2 separate regions of the Homo sapiens genome follow, and region 1 is linked to region 2. Evidence: fine-mapped expression QTL. Tissue or cell type: whole blood. Region 2 holds a variant in brackets; the other region holds the start of a gene. All regions are shown on one strand. Distances are from middle to middle. Region 1 holds the start of GARRE1 (granule associated Rac and RHOG effector 1). Region 2 overlaps LSM14A (LSM14A mRNA processing body assembly factor).

Region 1 (5,383 bases), 27 kb before region 2:
TTGCTTAAAAAAAAAAAAAAGGATGCTTAAAACATGGTCTTCCAAACATCTGGAGATAATTTTAGATTGAAAAATCTAGGCTTGCCAAGGGAATCTGAGAACTTTTCTATCTTGGTCTCCAATGCCAACCTACGTATTTGTGTGCAAAAATAGAGGAAGATTAGAATCTCAAATGCCACACTGAAAAGTTGCCACAACAAACCTGAACTCTTCATATGGAGTTTGTTATCTTGTCAGCAAGAAAGCAAATGAAACGGCAATAAACTAAACTTTTTGCTTTAAAAAGAAAAAAAAAATCTCAAACATGAAATATTCCCTGTACTTGTATTGGAAAATGATTTCTTTTTAAAACAAAATATTGTGAAGATACTGTGAAAAGAAAATACTGTGATTTTTAAAGACACTTGAAAACATCTAAGCACACACAAAATGTAAATATGAACTTTGTAAGTAGCCCTTACAAACATACACTTAGAACTTTTAGTCTAAAATATGATAAAATGATAAAGCTTACATATTATTCAATAAATCTGGAACTGACTAGCCATTTACAAAATATTTCATATTTTAAACCAAGAATGAATTTTAGGTAGACTAAAGGCAAAAAAATAAAACCATGAAACGATGAGACGCAAACATGAATTTCTTTTTTTTTTTTTTTGAGATGGAGTCTCACTCTGTTGCCCAGGCTGGAGCGCAGTGGCACGACCTCGGCTCACTGCAACCTTCGCCTCCTGGGCTCAAGCGATTCTCCTGCCTCAGCCTCCCAAGTAGCTGGGACTACAGGAGCGCGCCACCATGCTTGGCTAATGTGTTTTTTTGTATTTTTTTAGTTGAATCCGGGTTTCACCACGTTGGCCAGGCTGGTCTAGAACTCCTGACCTCAAGTGATCCGCCCGCCTCGGCCTCCCAAAGTGCTGGGATTACAGGCATGAGCCATCGCGCCAGGCTGGAATTTTTTTTTATGACAAAGAGACAGAAAAATTGTCCAAATATGTCAAAGGAAAACAAATACTATGTATTCTTAAAAATTGAACGTTACGGCCGGACACGGTGGCTCACGCCTATAATCCCAGCACTTTGGAACGCCGAGCCAGGCGGATCACCTGAGGTCAGGAGTTCGAGACCAACCTGGTCAACTGGGCGAAACCCTGTCTCTACTAAAAATACAAAAATTAGCCGGGCGTGGTGGGTGCCTGTAATCTCAGCTACTCGGGAGACTAAAGCAGGAGAATCGCTCGAACCCGGGAGGCTAAGGTTGCAGTTAATCTAGATCCCGCCACTGCACTCCAGCCTGGGTGACAGAGGGAGACTGTCTCAAAAAAAAACAAATAAAGTTACCTTTGACCCCATTTGTAAATTTATTCTAAGATAACAATCAGACCAGGTGTAATATCTCACACTTGTAATCCCAACACTTTGGAAGGCGAAGGCGTGAGGGTCGCTTGAGGCCAGAAGTTTTGAGACCAGCCTGGGCAACAGTCTCTTATTAAAAAAAAAAAAAAAAGACCATATCAAACAAATCCTTCCGGCAGAATTGTTTATCTTGTGACAAATTGGAAACTATCTCAATGCTCATCGGTGGTTAAATCACATACTGTAAAGTCCATAAAAATAACAATACCTATCTGTATTTATTGATTATCACCAAAATGTTAGCAGTGGTTGTCACTGAATGGTAGACTGGCAGATGACTGTCATTTTCTACCTTAAGACTTTTTGTGTCGTCTTGAGTGTTTTGCCAGGAAAGGAGAATTAACTGCTTTTATAATGGGGATGAGGGACCAGAACAAGGTATTTTCAAACTGGAGGCCCCCAAAGCTGAGTCTCTGGAAAATTTCTAAAAAGTCTAAACAAAATTCTTATCATGCCAACCAGGCACGCTTCTTTCCTCGCACCGCGCGGCGCAGAAAGACACACCCCTGACTCTGCGCTCGTCCCTCGGGCTCGGGTCCTCCACGCTCAGCCCCGGCCCTCCCGGTCCCCGCGGACCCTCCCCTCGGGCCCAATGCGCCAGCTGGCTCCGCAGGGCCGGAAAAGCGCGTTCCTCGGCAGCCTGGCGCCGCCGGGAAGGTGCGCGCAGCCCGCCCGGCAGCCCCGGGATGGCGTGAGGGCCGCCTCCCCGGCTAGCCCCAGCGGACCCCTGCCGCCAGCAGGCCGCCCTCCCTCCGCGGGCTTCCGGGAGCGGGTCCTGGCGCCAGCGCGACCTCCCGGGCCCCGGCGAACCGAGGGAGCGTCCCCTTTCCCCGCCTGACGGGCGCCGACCCGCCCCTGCGGTGCCGCGGCCGCCGAGTCTCCGACGCGCCCCCAGGTCCCGGGTTCGCGCCAGGAGGCCCCTCCGGGCTTCCGTCGGCCGGCCAGCGCCCGCAAAGCCCGGCGTCCTCCACAGCGGGCGGGCAAGGGGCGGGAGCCCACGGCCCCGCGCCCTGCGGCCCCGAGCGGAGCGGCGCCCCGCGGGCCCGTCTCGCCGTCTGCCCTGGCTGCGGCCCGCGGCCCCGCTGCCCACCGCCCACCGCCCGACCCCGCCCGCCAGCCCCCGCCTGCGCCCGCCGCGCCCGCTCCTCACCTGCGACGCGCCCCGGCCCCCAGCGCACCGCCTTGGACCGGCTGTGTACACCGGAAGTTACGTCTCCGGTCCGGCCCCGCCCCCGCCTCGGGCGGACGCGGGGAGGTTGCGGATCCCGCGCCTAGAGCGGACTCTCCTCTCGCATTAGAGGGGAGGGGGCGCCCCGGAGCCTCCTCTCCTGGGACCCTGGGCCCCCAAGCGGGACGGCCGGGGCGGAGGTTGAGGACTGGCGGCCAGAGCCGGAGGTCCACCCAGATCCCCCACCATGGCTTGGCCCCCGGGCGGGAGGGGTCGGGCTGCGTCCTCCTGGATTTATTACTGAAATTGACTGAAATCGATTACTGGCGTATGGAGTGTTTCCTAGATGCCAGGCCCCGACGGGCACTGCAGGAACGGGTAGTGCTCTCTCCCTCATAAGTTTATTCCTTAGTGGTAAATACACAATACCATTGTCACATATCCGGGTGATAATATAGTACCAATGGTGACAAGTGGTAGGAGGGGAAAGAGTAAGAGGGAGGGAGAGAGTACCCTGACCTAGTAAAGGAGAGTGATCCGGAATTCCCCCAGGGAAAGAGCAGGAGCTGAGGTCCTAAGGGGTAGAAGGGAGAAAAAAAAAAAAAAAAACGAGAAGGGAGGAGAACACATTACGCAGAAGCAGCAGCAAGGGTCTTCCAGTTCTGTGGGTTTTGTTTGTTTGAGACGGAGTCTTGCTCTATCGCCCAGGCTGGAGTGCAGTGACGTGATCTTGGCTCGCTGCAACCTCCACCTCCCGGGTTCAAGTGATTCTCCTGCCTCAGCCTCCCGGATAGCTGCGATTACAAGCGTGCGCCACCACGCCCGGCTAATTTTTGTGTTATTAGTAGAGACGGGATTTCCCCATGTTGGCCACGCTGGTCTCAAACTCCTGACCTCAGGTGTTCCGCCCACCTCGGCCTCCCAAAGTGCTTGAGCCACGGAGCATGGCCCAGTTTTGTGTTCCAATAATAAATCAGAGTGGTGAGAAGTTAGGTCTTACTTGACAGTGTTGCAAAACTAATGAGTTTTAAGCAAGAGGTGATTTGTCCATACTTGAGAGTGTAAAGGGGTTACTCTAGATGCAGTGTGGAGAAGGAAGGACTACGGAGGGGAGGCAAGAGTGGATATAAATGTGTACACCCATGTTCATATTAGTCAGAAGGTGGAAGCAACCCAATGTCCATCCACGGGTGAATGGGTTCACAAAATGTGGTATAAACATAACAATAGAATATTACTCAGCGTTGAAGGAGGCCGGGCGCCGTGGCTTACGCCTGTAATCCCAGCACTTTGGGAGGCCAAGGCGCGTGGATCACCTGAGGTCAGGAGTTCGAGACCAGCCTGACCAACATGATGAAACCCCGTCTCTACTAAAAATACAAAATCAGCCAGGCGTGGTGGCGCATGCCTATAATCCCAGCTACGATGCAAATAGATGAGCTTTGAAGATATTATGCCAAAAGAAACCAGTCACAAAGACAAATATCCTATGATTCCACTTACATAAGGTACCTAGAGTAGTCAAAAACATAGAGACGGGCCAGGCATGGTGGCTCATGCCTGTAATCCCAGCACTATGGGAGGCTGAGGCAGGAGGATCACCTGAGGTCAGGAGCTCCAGACCAGCCTGGCCAACATGGTGAAATCCCATCTGTACTAAAAATACAAAAAGTTAGCCAGGCGTGGTGGTGGAGGCCTATAATCCCAGCTACTTGGAAGGTCGAAGCAGGAGAACAACTTGAACCTGGGAGGCAGAGGTTGCAGTGAGCTGAGATTACGCCACTGTATTCCAGCCTTGGCGATGAAGCGAGAATCTATCTCAAAAAAAAAAAAAAAAGAGGCCGGGTGCAGTGGTTCACGCCTGTAATCCCAACACTTTGGGAGGCCGAGGTGGGCGGATCATGAGGTCAGGAGATCGAGACCATCCTGGCTAACATGGTGAAATCCCATCTGTACTAAAAATACAAAAAGTTAGCCAGGCGTGGTGGTGGAGGCCTATAATCCCAGCTACTTGGAAGGCCGAAGCAGGAGAACAACTTGAACCTGGGAGGCAGAGGTTGCAGTGAGCTGAGATTACGCCACTGTATTCCAGCCTTGGCGATGAAGCGAGAATCTATCTCAAAAAAAAAAAAAAAAGAGGCCGGGTGCAGTGGTTCACGCCTGTAATCCCAACACTTTGGGAGGCCGAGGTGGGCGGATCATGAGGTCAGGAGATCGAGACCATCCTGGCTAACATGGTGAAACCCCGTCTCTACTAAAAATACAACAAAAAATTAGCCGGGCGTGGTGGTGGACGCCTGTATTCCCAGCTACTCTGGAGGCTGAGGCAGGAGAACTGTGTGAACCCGGGAGGCAGAGCTTGCAGTGAGCCGAGATTGCGCCACTGCACTCCAGCCTGGGTGACAGAGCGAGACTCCATCTCAAAAAAAAAAAAAAAAAAGAAAGAAATGTAGAAGTTCTAATATTTTCTCCCAGTATCCCAATGGATTGCCTTCCCATACTATGGGGTACATGAACCTCCCTTTGAAAACCATTCATGGACTATGGTAGTGGCAATGGGGATGGAAAAAAAAAAGAAAGTCAAATTTGAGAAAGATTTTGGAATAAAATTGATGTAAAATCAGTGGTGAAATGGATATGGAGGGTGAGGAAGAGGTAGGAATCATGAATGTCTCCTGGGTCTCTGGGATGAGCCATTGTAGTGCTGGCACTCATTGTTTTGGGAAGCCCCGGAAGAGGACCATATTTGGGAGGGTGGAGGATGGGAAGAATGGCCCGAGTTCCAGTGTGAACATGGCA
Region 2 (5,383 bases):
AGGACATTTACCATCCGGGCCCTTACTTTTAAATACCAGTGGTGATCCCCAGTGATTGTGACAACCAAAACACATCCCCTCACATTCCTCAGTACTCACGCACCACTTAATGATGTTTTGGTCAACGATGGACTGGGTATACAATGGTGGTCCCAAAGATTATGATACCGTATTTTTACTATACTTTTTCTGTTTAGATATGTTTTAAATACAGAAATACCACTGTGTTATGACTGCCTACAGTATTCAGTACAGTAACATGCTGTACAGGTTTGTAGCGAGGAGCAACAGGCTACACCATATAGCTTAGGTGTGGAGTAGGCCATACCATCTTCATTTGTGTAGTACACTCTCTGATGTTCACACAATGATGACATTGCTTAACACATTTCTCAGAATGTGTCATGGCCGGGCCTGGTGGCTCATGTCTGTAATCTAGCACTTTGGGAGGCCAAGATGGGAGGATCATTTGAGCCCAGGAGTTAGAGACCAGCCTGGGCAACGAAGTGAGACCTCATTGCTATTTAAAAATAAGAACATGTCGCTATTATTAAGCAACAGATGACTGTGTTCCTAGGATGTCAGGTAACCCCACCGAGAGCCACTGTGCTGCACTGCTGTTCCCGACCTCTTGCCCTACCATCACATGAAGCCCAGCTTTTGGAGCGAACTGTTTTAATAGACAGATTCTGCATCTTCTTCATGCGTCTGCCCACAGGGAGTGTGTTCTGGCTGCTGTTTCCAGCCTGGCCTGTGCCTGGGTGGCTCAATCTCCTCATGTCACGGATCTGATCTCAGAAGTATTTTATTTACACACAGGAGGGGAAGGAAGGGGCTTTTAGCTTTCCCTAAACATCTGCAACAATAACTCAATCTTAGAAATAAAGTAACTGATTTATAGTTATTACAGGGAATACAAACATTATAATTCCGCTCTTCCATTTAAAAGATTCCTTTCATTATGTTCCTACTGAAACAGAATGTTACTATTTAAAGAGAAAGAACTTTGACGAGCATTTTTTATTGAACAGTTTTATTCTGTTTTAGAATAAAAACTTTGCTTTAATATTGTAAGGGGTACTGCAGGTATGCCATGCTGCCAGTTATTGCTGGGGCACAAAACGCCCCAGTCAGTGATTCGGAGGGCTGGGAAAACGCATAAACTCATAATTTCAGAGCAAGTAGAACTAGTATTTACAGTTTTCTTTCTTGAAATTGGCCCGGGACATCTCCAACAGTCTACACATGTATTGCCATGGTACTTGCTCTGATGCTCTGAATGCCTCGGAACTGTGTTCAATATCATGATTTGTGGGTCCTCTAAAAGGTTTTGTTGTTAACATGCAAGCAAACAGCACTGAACAATATTGTCTAAACTATGGCTGCCAAGTACTGGATCTTCATAATGAAACCAAATTACAAAACACTGCCTTGTAGAGCTATACAAAAGATATAAAATGAAAATAAAAAATGTCAACCAGCCTTAAATATTCCAATTCTCCTACAGTGCAGTTTCTATATCTTTATCACTACTGAATGTTTTAAGGAGAAAGTTAAGAAAACAATCAAAATATTAGATAAAAATATTTAAATCTTTGGATCCTTTTATTCCATGGCCTTCATAAAAACACAAAAGTGGCCAGATTTTTCCCACTAGAGCTTAAAATATCAAAAAGATTCACTAGTAATTTATAATTAGCAATGAACTCTATACTGAGTCATCTGTGGGTCATCATAGGCCCAAGGACCAGTGTTGCCGTGTGTTACAGGCTACCAAAATAATTTCTAGCACTCTGAATCCTCTTGAAATATGATGGAATGAGTCAAGGTATCATGACTAAATTCCAGGCATAATAGGAAAAACAGGTTCATTGATGCCTAGTTTTAAAGTCCTACAAAAGGGGGGAAGATTACTTATTTGAAAATACAGCTAAGTACATTCTCATCTGTGATTATTTACATTTGTATACTGAAAATATCGATTATCTGGACAGATCCTGTGATATGCCATTTGCTACAAAATGAAGTTCTTACAATGAGCATGAATAATTAATCCTTTTTAGATAATGAAATAATGTATCAAATCTTCATTTATGTTCCAAACATTAAAAAACAAAATCAAAAATGTTAAGCCTGGAAAACTAAGAAAAAAAGACCCACCCATAAGGCTGCTGCTCAGCACATCAACTTCTGCAAGGACACAGTATGTTTGCTGACTTTAAAATGTTTATTCTTTAAAAAATTAGTTGCTTTTTATACAGCTATACAAAGTTCTTAATGTTTCTTTGGCAATGGAATATAATGGAATTTTACAACTATATAAAAAAGTTACCTTTGCCTAAGAAACAGTATTTACTGTGTGTACATAGTTGACTGACAAAATTCTCTACCATCCAGCACCCTAATTAATTGACGAAATAAGCTACCTCATATTACAGGATTCCCCAAAAGAAAGGAGGAAAAAGACACACACATACACACACACACACACACACACACACACACACACACACAACCTTCTGTGGCTCAAAACACAGTATCACGGCCCTATCTGCAGGCAACTTGCAATTGCCAAATACAATTTAGTGATAAAAAAAAAAAACCTTTCAGTGATGAAAAAATACTTGTTAAGTCCCACTGAAGTACTGCTTTAGTTTAACTATACATAAGAAATTACTTAACCTTCTGCTATTCCAAATATATTTAATGCTCATGTTTTAAGATGAGCCTTCCACCCCCAAAAGTAACTGCATTTTATCTTTGAAATTAAGCGGAAAAACAAACAAAAAACAAAAACCCAGTGCTGGTGACAAATGTACAGCGAATTCACTTCTTCATTCTTTGCAAAGACTGAAATCAATGTTCAGGACCATGAAGAGCTAGAAATTCACCTATTTTCAGAGACTTGTTTGTAGACTATGCAGCAACTTTGTTGTCTTTCTAAAAAAGAAAAAAAAA[T/A]TTAGCTCATGTTCCAAATTATTGGTGTATTATTTTCTTTTTACTTTGCTCAAGTTTATTTTAAATTATCTTTAAATATACTCCCCCACTTTTACTTTCATAGAAAAACCTGTCTCACTCATTTCCACGAAACTCCTTCTATAACTTCCATACTCAGTAGTACCTCATTGTTGACTGCATCTTCCAGTCAGTAGAGGTTAATGCAGTGGTGAACCCCACCCCAAAATACAGGCATACTTCCTCATCTTTGGTTGTTCTCCCTAATAATTTTTTAAAAGCAGTGATAGGACTTAAACCCTCAACTCAATAGTCAAACTCATCAAATACAACTGTCAACATACTTTGAAACAAGTTTCATAAAATCCCCAAGTCTTTGATGTCTTTACTAAGCAATAAAATACCCAGTCAGTATAACATTTCTCTCCAAAATTTCATGCCAGGAGGAAGCAATGGTTTAAAAATCAATTTTACAAGGATAACTCTTAAATCTGAAATAAGCTCTGAAAAGTAGAAAGCTGACTGGGGAATTTTTAAAAAGTAACCAGTGAGGAAGCAATAAAAATCTCAAGATTTCCAGAGAGACTGACCCTAAACTAAAGGCCTGTACAAAGGGCTGGAGCCAAGGGCTTTTATTTTCCTCTAGACCAGCTGCTACCATATACCTGGTTTTTACTGCTGATTCTCACCCCAACTGTTAGAAACAGACATTTCCTAGGTGAGACTTAACTTCATCTGTGTATACAACACCAAAACATTTGCACCCCGTTATTAAACTGAAATACATATGGTATGGCATAAGTTGACAGCAATGAGCTACAAGATGAACCTGCTGTCCCCCACAAAGCCAACCTTCACACCTCCCAAAGTATTTGTTTTTTTTACCTTTCAGAAAGCAGTACGATCAATCCAGACCTTTTAGGGTCCAAAAGCTGTGGTTTTCTGAAAGGTAAAAAAAAAAAAAAAAAAAAAAAGAGAAAGAGATGGGGACAGGAGAGGGAGAAAGGAGAAAATGAAAGGGGGAGAGGAGAGAGAGCATTATGCTGAGTCATTCAGACACCTTGTTGTCTTTGAACCCCATCTGAGGAAACACAGATGTGATTTTTATCACCCACCATGGTGGCTTAACCTCCCTGACAGCAGCATATAAAACAGGAGCTGGTTACATTATTATTGCTAGTCCTGATTTCCATTCTCACCTCAAAAAAGAATGGGCGGTGGGAGGGGGAAAACACCATACAACCAAACTTACCATAAGGTTATATTTCTTTCTTTTCTTTTTTTTTTTTGAGACAGGCCTCGCTCTGTCACCCAGGCTGGAGTGCAGTGGTGCGATCATGGCTCACTGCAGCCTTGACCTCCCAGGTTCAACTGATCCTCCTGCCTTAGCCTCCTGAGTAGCTGGGACTACAGGCATGTGCCACCACTCCAGCTAATTTTTAAACTTTTTTATAGAGATAGGGACTCCTTATGTTGCCCATGCTGTCCTTGAATTCCTGGGCTTAAGCAATCCTGCCCTGGCCTCCCAAAATGCTGGTATTACATGTGTACACCATTGCACTGGCCTATATTTACAATATTACCCTTAAGGAAAATCAGGCCACAAGTCAAGAGAGTGAGTTTTGGATTTGTTAGCTTGTACCTCAATCATGACAATTAACTTCTTGGGGTCCTTAGTTTCCTTATCATCTAATGTGAGTGTGGTAGCGTAGAGATTCTAGTTTGGCTGATTCTTTTAAGGATTCTAAAACTTTATGATTTTATCTTTACCCATGTTTTCATTAAACAACCAAGCTCATTTATGCTTACCCCCAAACCACAATGACTCATGCTAATATAGCACAAAAAATAAAGCCAACTCATTTCATGAAGGCTGCAGAAATGTCATCCATGTCCATCTCTGGGAGGAAGTGTTAGATGTTTCAGATACAAGTTTAATCTTCAGTGGTAAATCTCCTTTATGTGACAGTGATCACTCACCATTTTCTACCTTTAAAGGTGCCAGGTGAAATGATTTTATGATTTAGGAGGTGTAGGGCTGCTGGGTTCGGGGCTCTAGTGGCAGATGAAAGGATTATTCAACTCTGGAATGAACAATCAAAGGCTAGCTACATTGACAGACCTTTGGTCTCACTGAAGGCTGGAGTGGCAAATTCCTAATCAACATGACAAGCAATTACTTCAAGCCCACTATGGCTCCATGTTGAGCTGAGTGTTGTCATGGAAAGAAAAGTAGAATACATATTCACTAAAGCCAAGAGGTTCTCATCTAGCTGGTGATGCAGAACAAAACTAAATACAAAAAATAGGGAATGTCAGTGTATTTAAAATGTGTGCCAAAGAAAGCAGATAGCCACAGGTCAGAAGAGGAGGAAATCAGTGTAGGAAGGAAGAGAAGACAGAGCAAAACTTGGGCAAGGCTGTAAAG

Evidence for each region. PIP is the estimated chance that this variant, and not a neighbour inherited with it, causes the effect. A credible set is the group of variants that fine-mapping cannot tell apart.
Region 1: it holds the start of GARRE1, and the variant in region 2 is the best candidate, but not a certain one, in a credible set for the expression of GARRE1 in whole blood (TOPMed, PIP 0.62).

The regions. Positions count from the first base shown.
Region 1 is chr19:34,251,798-34,257,180 of GRCh38, reverse strand. It overlaps GARRE1 (granule associated Rac and RHOG effector 1), which reads right to left and starts at 2,627. Exons shown (of 14, transcript NM_014686.5): 1 at 2,567-2,627. RefSeq lists an enhancer at 1,809-2,330.
Region 2 is chr19:34,224,922-34,230,304 of GRCh38, reverse strand. LSM14A (LSM14A mRNA processing body assembly factor) reads right to left here. Exons shown (of 10, transcript NM_015578.4): 10 at 1,017-2,940. The coding sequence ends at 2,917. Among named protein-coding and RNA genes, the nearest start is that of GARRE1, 27 kb to the left of the region's middle. RefSeq lists an enhancer at 4,966-5,383. The variant T/A (reference allele first, on the strand shown) is at 2,959.